Linked DNA regions of Homo sapiens. The protein of the gene in region 1 interacts with the protein of each later gene in a biochemical or structural test. Each region holds a gene or a part of one and is shown in the gene's direction. Other genes may lie near its edges.

Region 1 (4,235 bases):
CAAGCCGGCAATACTTGACAAAAATATCTACCATTTAAGCACAGAGCCAAAAGCAAGGAGTAGTCTCCTGGGCGCTGGAAGTATTTTGAAATCCCCAAAGTCTCATTCATTGATCAGAAAACAAAATGGAATTACTTTTTTTTTGCTCCCTCCTCCCCTCCATGCAGTAGCTGTTCTTGGCGGGTGCCCAGAGCGGCACCCGGTAATTCCACGGTACATTGTGTACATTTACATCTGTTTAATCGGCTATTTACAGTCGCCCTTTACCGCCACCTGTAAGAGGCAGCGCCATAACGACACTAAGTGGCCGGGCCGGAAGCCGGGTGCCCAATGGTTTTCTCCACTTGAGGACGCCTGAATCTGTGAAGTGGTTGGCACTTGGAGAAACAGAGAGACAGCTGGGGACATCACACGTACAGGGCGGGAGGCGCGGGAAAGAGGCGCGCCAGACGGAGGGTCCTTCCTTCCTCGTTAGCTCCACTCGGCGGCTCCTTTTCCATTACCACAGCAGCAAGGAGGAACCTGCCGAGCCTTCGGTGCGGCTTGTTTCCTGCCTGACAGAGAGCCCGCTGCCATTTGGATTTGATGAATTTCTGAATCACCCGAGGGCCTGGCGACCCGAAGGAGGGCGGGGAGTGGGGGCGCTGGGGTGGACCCGCCATCCTGCGGAATCCGGGCCAGATAACAGCCCCCGAGCTGGGGAAATCGGCTTGCGGATGTGATGCGGGACCGCGAGGACACCTGCGCTCCCTTGCGTGTCGCACTCGTGCAGCTCCCGGTGGCGACGGGGTGATGTGGGGGCGAGGGTGAGAGGAAGTCCAGGCGCCAGAGCGTCAGAAACGCTTCCTTAGCTTCCCTGGCACTTTGGAGGTTGTCTCGAGGGAACACGGACAGTGCACGACGGACTTTCAAGTTGCTCCCGGCACAACGGGAGGTCGGGAGCTCGGAGCCCCTACGGGCGGTCCAAGTGTCCGCGAGAAGCCCGCAGCGCCCAGGACCGCGTTGAGCGCTCGGGGCGCGCCAAGCCGCACCTAAGCAAAAGAGAAACGCTGACGGGCCGGAGGCGGGTTGGCTGGGACGCGGAATACGCGCGGCCCCGGAGCGCCTTTCGTTTTAAGGAGCCTTACTTCTGGAAAGGGACAGGGAACTGTCAATCAGCGAGGGAGGGAGCGCACCGGCGCTGGGTGATGTCAGCGGATCAGCTGCTCGATAACAAAGAGAGGGTATTACAGGAGAAAGTTGCAGCAGCGGCAGCGGCCAAGGCGGCACACCGGAGCCTCCGAGGCGAGGGGCAAGTGGGCGAAGGGAGGGGGGACGACGGCTGCTGCCGCAGCAGCTGAAGGCCAAGGAATTGAAAGGGCTGTAGGGGGAGGCAGTGCGAGCCAGCCCCGACTGCTCCTCCTCTTCCTCCTCCTCCTCCAAACTCGCGAGCCCCAGAGCTCGCTCAGCCGCCGGGAGCACCCAGAGGGACGGGAGGCAGCCGCGCAGCCCCGAGCTGGGCAGTGTCCCCAGCCGCCATGGATAGCGACGACGAGATGGTGGAGGAGGCGGTGGAAGGTACAAGCATTTCTCCGGGGCCGGGGGAGGAGGCGCAGAGGGCCTGGAGCGCGGAAGGAGTGGCGGGCTGCGAACAGCGCGGCGCCGGGCCCCGCGGCCGCCACTGTCCCCTACACGGGTGGCCGGTTGCCCGGCTCGGGCGGGGGCCCGACAGCCACGGTCACGCCGCCGGGAGCGCGCACTGCGCGGCGGGGCGCAGGCCGAGAATGGGGCTCCGCCAGGCCGGGGGCGCTGGAAACGCACGGCCGCTCCATCCCGCCCGGCCACAGCCTGCATCCACCCTCGGAGTTGCGAAACCTGCCCCGCGCTCTGGCCTTTCCGCCTTTGGGCGCGGAGGGTGGGTGCACTCCGCAGGGCAGCCCCTTGAGGCCGGCGGACTCCGCGGAGCAATCCCCTAGCCCAGTTTTGGCCACCCCGATCCCCTCCCGGCCGCCAGCCCTTCCCTTCTGCTGCCTCTGCGCCCCGCGGCGGCCGCGGCCCCGTCCGGGTAGGTCCCCCGGCGCAGCGCACGGGGCCAGACCAGGCACGTGGCAGCCGCGGCCCAGGCGGCAGCTCTTCCGAAAAGATGAAATCATTGTCGGGCGACGGACAAGTCTCCCGACCCGGGACTCGAACGTGCGCCGTCCGGGAGGCGGGCAGCCCTCCCCTCAGCTGCCCCCGAGCGAACTCAGTCAGGCCTCCCCCTCCCCCTTCCTGCTTGGCTGGGATGCAGCCGCCACGCTGTGCAGGCGCGCCGCGAGTCCGCACCGAGATTGCTGGGTGACACTTAACTTTCTGAATTCCATGCCGTTGGCTGTGGGTGATATCACCGCCTCAGTGTCGTGTTTCTCCGCCCCTTCTCTTCTACCGCCCCTCCCCCGACTTTTCTCGCCACTTTGTTTTGCTGAGTTTCTCCACCTTTTTTTTTTTTTTTTTGTTAGTTCTGAAAAAACGATGTGGGGACGTTATACAATCTCGTTGTTTGTATCATAGGATGTTATGATTTTGTAACAGCGAATACTGGAAAATACTCTTTAGCGTATTTATTTGGTTCCACTCCATACAGTACGTCGTGATGTTTTTCAGTGTGGTGTGGTATGATACCAGAATGTTTTAAACTAAGCATGTGAGTAAATAATTTTTAGCTGTTGGTTGAATCTGGTTTCTGTCTGATTTGTATAAACACAAGTTCTGACGAAGGATAAAGAAAAAAAGTGGCGACACTACAAATGCATAAGGATACATGGTTATTGTTACACTAGGGAAAAATCAGTTTTAATGTTTTCATAAACATAACTCCCTTTGCAGTGCTTCTGAGATCTTAAGGGGAGATTAAGCAGACTAATATTTCTGAACTCTTGAAAAGTATCCAATGTAATGCCAATATTAAAACTTATTTCTTCATCTAACTTCGAAGCCAATTAAAGACTGTGGTTTTTGTTAAGAAAATTTTCACCATGTTGTGAACTCACAGAGCTATTTATCTCTCTAATAAATAAAGCCAATGTTGGGGCTTACTGGAGTGAGGCCCAGATACATTGATTGAGTTGATCCACAGGGAGCCTTCTGAGAAGTTAAAAGTTGTTGACTTCTTGTGCCTCCATGTTGTGAAAGATAAAGGAAAAATGATCTCAGATTGTTAGGGCTTGCTCTCTTTCTTCAACGTTTACTTTTACTTGTAAAAATTAAATACAAACCCTTAATTGCTGGTACTGTTCTCCATGTTAAACCACATCCATTCCCCTTTGAAGCTGTTTACAAACATATGTCCAGTTGTCCATAGTCCTCAGGCTCCTTTGCAGACTGTGACCAAGAGCTTTAGAAATGGCAGTATTGTTTTTTGAGAACATCCACTGGATTCGAAAACAGGGAAGTTCATATAAACAGGGATGGTTTTGTTTTATAGGGTAATTATGTACATTATTGTCCAAAATCAGAACCCCCTTGAGAATGAGAGGGCACACTATTAATAATGATGCTGGGGCAGGTAGCTTAAGCCTTGAATGTCTGGGGCAATCTGGGACACATGGTCACTCAGTTGTAGCTAACTAAACAATTAGAGCAGCACAGAATCTTTAAAAGCCCCTAGAAGCATCTCAGGCTCTAACTTGCACAGTGCCAGGAGTGTGTGTGTGCACATGCAGTAAACCGTACCTGTGCGTGCACTCTTGTCCAGCCATTCTTGGCCTTTTTAGTGCTGTTTGCAATAGTCTTTACATAACATCTAACACTTACATAGGGGACTGGTATAAACTGCTTCTGTTCTTTCCCAAAGAGAAGCTAGTCTGAATATCTTAGTGTTTAAGTACCAACTAATCTACCTCTTTCCATAAACAGAGCCTCTGTTCTCAGTAGTTTCATTGTCATAGCTATTATTATCATTGCTATAATTGTTTAGTTCTTATTAAGTGCAGGCTCTGTGCTAAGTGTTTCACAGACATTATCCATTCAGTCTTATTCAGTCTTATGAGGTGGGTACTAATATTATCCTAATTTTACAGAGGCGGGAACTGAGGCATACAGAAGTTAAGGACTAATCCAAGAACACTCAGTGAGGTGGAGAGACTGGCTTGGACTTCCAAAACAGCCCTCCACCAGACCAAACTGTCTTCCTACATTTTTTATTTTTAATGAGTTAGTCAAATTTATGAAACACTTGATAACTGAGTTTGGAAGCAACAGTTAAATATTATGTCAGT
Region 2 (3,500 bases), on another chromosome or scaffold:
GACGGTGTCGTCGACCTGAACTGGGCTGCCGAGGTGCTGAAGGTGCAGAAGCGGCGCATCTATGACATCACCAACGTCCTTGAGGGCATCCAGCTCATTGCCAAGAAGTCCAAGAACCACATCCAGTGGCTGTAGGTACCGGCCACACAGGAGGGCAGGCACACCTGCCCATGCCAGCCTGGAGGAGCTGGTAGTAATACCCACTGTGGCTGCCTGCATCCCCATCTTATAGCTGGGGAAACGGGCTCAGAGAGGAGAGGTAGCTTCCCTGAGATGATAGATGGTAAAAAGCACACAAATCTTACATATCCACCTCAGTTGCAGCTTTACTTTTTTCTTTTTTAGATGGAGTTTCACTCTGTCACCCAGGCTGGAGTGCAGTGGTGTAATCTCAGCTCACTGTAACCTCTACCTCCCAGGTTCAGGTGCTTCTCCTGCCTCAGCCTCCTGAATAGCTGGGGATACAGGCGCCTGCCACCATGCCCAGCTACTTTTTGTATTTGTAGTAGAAATGGGGTTTCACCATGTTGGCCAGTCTGGTCTCGAACTCCTGATCTCAGGTGATCTGCCTGCCTCAGCCTCCCAAAGTGCTGGGATTACAGGCATGAGCCACTGCGCCCCGCGCAGCTTTATATATTTATTCATCTGGGTTGCCACCATTCAGATCAAGATAAGAGCATTTTCAACACCCTAGAAGGTTCTCTTGTGCCCCTTTCCAGTCATTGCCAACCCCTCACACCGCCAGGTCACCACTATCCTGGCTTCTCATGCCCTCGGTGAGATCTGTCTGGCATAGATATTTTATTCTTGTTTTATTTTCCCCCTCTCGCCTTCGCGCCAGTCATCATGCTACTACCCTTTCTTTGATACACCTGCCGTTTCATTTTTTGGTAGATCGTTCCATTCTGCATCTTTTGTGGTTTTTTGGGTGGAGGGGGGTGGTTTGAGACAGGGTGTTGCTCTGTCGCCCAGGCTGGAGTATGGAGGCACAAATACAGCTCACTGCAGCCTCAACCTCCTGGGCTCAAGCTCCGTACCTGTAGCTAGGACTACAAGTACATGCCACCATGTCTGGCTAATGTCTTTGATTTTGTGTAGAGGCAGAGTCTCACTGTGTTGCCCAGGCTGGTCTCAAACTCCTGAGGCTCAAGCAATCCTCTGGCCTCAGCCCCCCAAAGTGCTGGGATTATAGGTATAAGCCACCAAGCCCAGCCTTTTTTTTTTTTTCATTTGACAGCATGTCTTGGAAATGCATGTGTGTGTGCATGTGTAATATTTCGTGGCATGTCAGTCCCATCATTTGTTTATCCCGCCCTGGTTGAGGGACATGTAGGTGTTTATATTCGGGCCAGACTTCAAGCCCATGACACTCTGATTTGGAGCCCAGCTGAGGAGCCAGACCCAGACAGAAGCAAGGGCTTGCCTAGGCCTCACAGAACAGAGGCAACAGCAGACTCTGTCCTGAGGCCCAGGGCTCCTGGCCAGAGGGGCCAATCGCTGTTAACCCTACCCTCCCTGGTGCCTCCCCACAGGGGCAGCCACACCACAGTGGGCGTCGGCGGACGGCTTGAGGGGTTGACCCAGGACCTCCGACAGCTGCAGGAGAGCGAGCAGCAGCTGGACCACCTGATGAATATCTGTACTACGCAGCTGCGCCTGCTCTCCGAGGACACTGACAGCCAGCGATATCCTTGGATTGGCCGTAGGGTGTGGAAGGCAGGCTTAGCAGGCAGGGGCTCCACCCAAGTGGGACTAGAGAGGCTTGGATTTAAGAGAGAGCTCTGATTTTGGTTGCAAGTCCTGGCTCAGCATTTTCTCACTGTTGTGACACTGGATAAATTGCTTAACCTCTTGGCCTCAGTTTTATCTATAAAAGGGGAATAATAATATCCAATTCTGAAATTGTACAGATTAAAAAAGAAAAGTGGCTAGGTGCGGTGGTTCATGCCTGTAATCCTAGTGCTTCAAGAGGCTGAGGTGGGAGGATCACTTGAGCCCAGGAGTTTGAGGCTGCAGTGAGCTCTGGTTGAGCCACATCACTCCAGCCTGGGTGACATAGCGAGACCCTGCCTCTAAAAAATAAATTCCCAGCACCAGGCCTGGAGTTGTGTTGAACATTTTACATGGAATCGTTCCCGGTAGCCATTATTACCTTGGGATTCAATGGGTAGAGTGATTTCATTATACAGATGTGGAACTTGAAACTCAGGCGTGAGGTAGGTTTTGAGTGGGTAGGAGGTTGGGAGGACAGGAGTGACTAGGCAGGTGTGAGCCCTGCCTTGTGAGCTGTTGGAGTGAGTGACCCCCTAGAAGTCAAAGGTCATGTGGTCCTTGACTCTGCCAACCCTGGCCTACGTGACGTGTCAGGACCTTCGTAGCATTGCAGACCCTGCAGAGCAGATGGTTATGGTGATCAAAGCCCCTCCTGAGACCCAGCTCCAAGCCGTGGACTCTTCGGAGGTGAGATCTGGGAACTCCGGGCCCAACTGGGCTGGGCTGGGCTGGGCTGGTGGTCACCTGGGCCTCAGTTTACCCTGCCTGCTGCTTCCACCCAGAACTTTCAGATCTCCCTTAAGAGCAAACAAGGCCCGATCGATGTTTTCCTGTGCCCTGAGGAGACCGTAGGTGGGATCAGCCCTGGGAAGACCCCATCCCAGGAGGTCACTTCTGAGGAGGAGAACAGGGCCACTGACTCTGCCACCATAGTGTCACCACCACCATCATCTCCCCCCTCATCCCTCACCACAGATCCCAGCCAGTCTCTACTCAGCCTGGAGCAAGGTGGGTGATGGGTAGGTGGGTGGGGTGGGGCAGGGCCCCTCTTCTGGGGGGTGGGCAGGCACGACAGCCCCTGCCTTCCTCCCTGCTGGGGCATCCCCGGCCTGTGATGCTCCCCGTCTCCCCAGAACCGCTGTTGTCCCGGATGGGCAGCCTGCGGGCTCCCGTGGACGAGGACCGCCTGTCCCCGCTGGTGGCGGCCGACTCGCTCCTGGAGCATGTGCGGGAGGACTTCTCCGGCCTCCTCCCTGAGGAGTTCATCAGCCTTTCCCCACCCCACGAGGCCCTCGACTACCACTTCGGCCTCGAGGAGGGCGAGGGCATCAGAGACCTCTTCGACTGTGACTTTGGGGACCTCACCCCCCTGGATTTCTGACAGGGCTTGGAGGGACCAGGGTTTCCAGAGATGCTCACCTTGTCTCTGCAGCCCTGGAGCCCCCTGTCCCTGGCCGTCCTCCCAGCCTGTTTGGAAACATTTAATTTATACCCCTCTCCTCTGTCTCCAGAAGCTTCTAGCTCTGGGGTCTGGCTACCGCTAGGAGGCTGAGCAAGCCAGGAAGGGAAGGAGTCTGTGTGGTGTGTATGTGCATGCAGCCTACACCCACACGTGTGTACCGGGGGTGAATGTGTGTGAGCATGTGTGTGTGCATGTACCGGGGAATGAAGGTGAACATACACCTCTGTGTGTGCACTGCAGACACGCCCCAGTGTGTCCACATGTG

What was found. Proteins that work in one complex are often made in the same cells at the same time.
Region 2: of the proteins of SETD7 (region 1) and E2F1, one has a biochemical effect on the other in vitro, tested with the Homo sapiens proteins (3 studies listed by BioGRID).

The regions. Positions count from the first base shown.
Region 1 is NC_000004.12:139,553,420-139,557,654, reverse strand, and holds the start of SETD7 (histone-lysine N-methyltransferase SETD7), read left to right. Parts: upstream 1-1,435; 5' UTR 1,436-1,517; coding exon 1,518-1,557; intron 1,558-4,235. UniProt on the Homo sapiens protein: Histone methyltransferase that specifically monomethylates 'Lys-4' of histone H3. H3 'Lys-4' methylation represents a specific tag for epigenetic transcriptional activation.
Region 2 is NC_000020.11:33,676,386-33,679,885, reverse strand, and holds part of E2F1 (transcription factor E2F1), read left to right. Parts: coding exon 1-131; intron 132-1,532; coding exon 1,533-1,685; intron 1,686-2,344; coding exon of another isoform or gene 2,345-2,345; coding exon 2,346-2,460; intron 2,461-2,555; coding exon 2,556-2,781; intron 2,782-2,906; coding exon 2,907-3,154; 3' UTR 3,155-3,500. UniProt on the Homo sapiens protein: Transcription activator that binds DNA cooperatively with DP proteins through the E2 recognition site, 5'-TTTC[CG]CGC-3' found in the promoter region of a number of genes whose products are involved in cell cycle regulation or in DNA replication.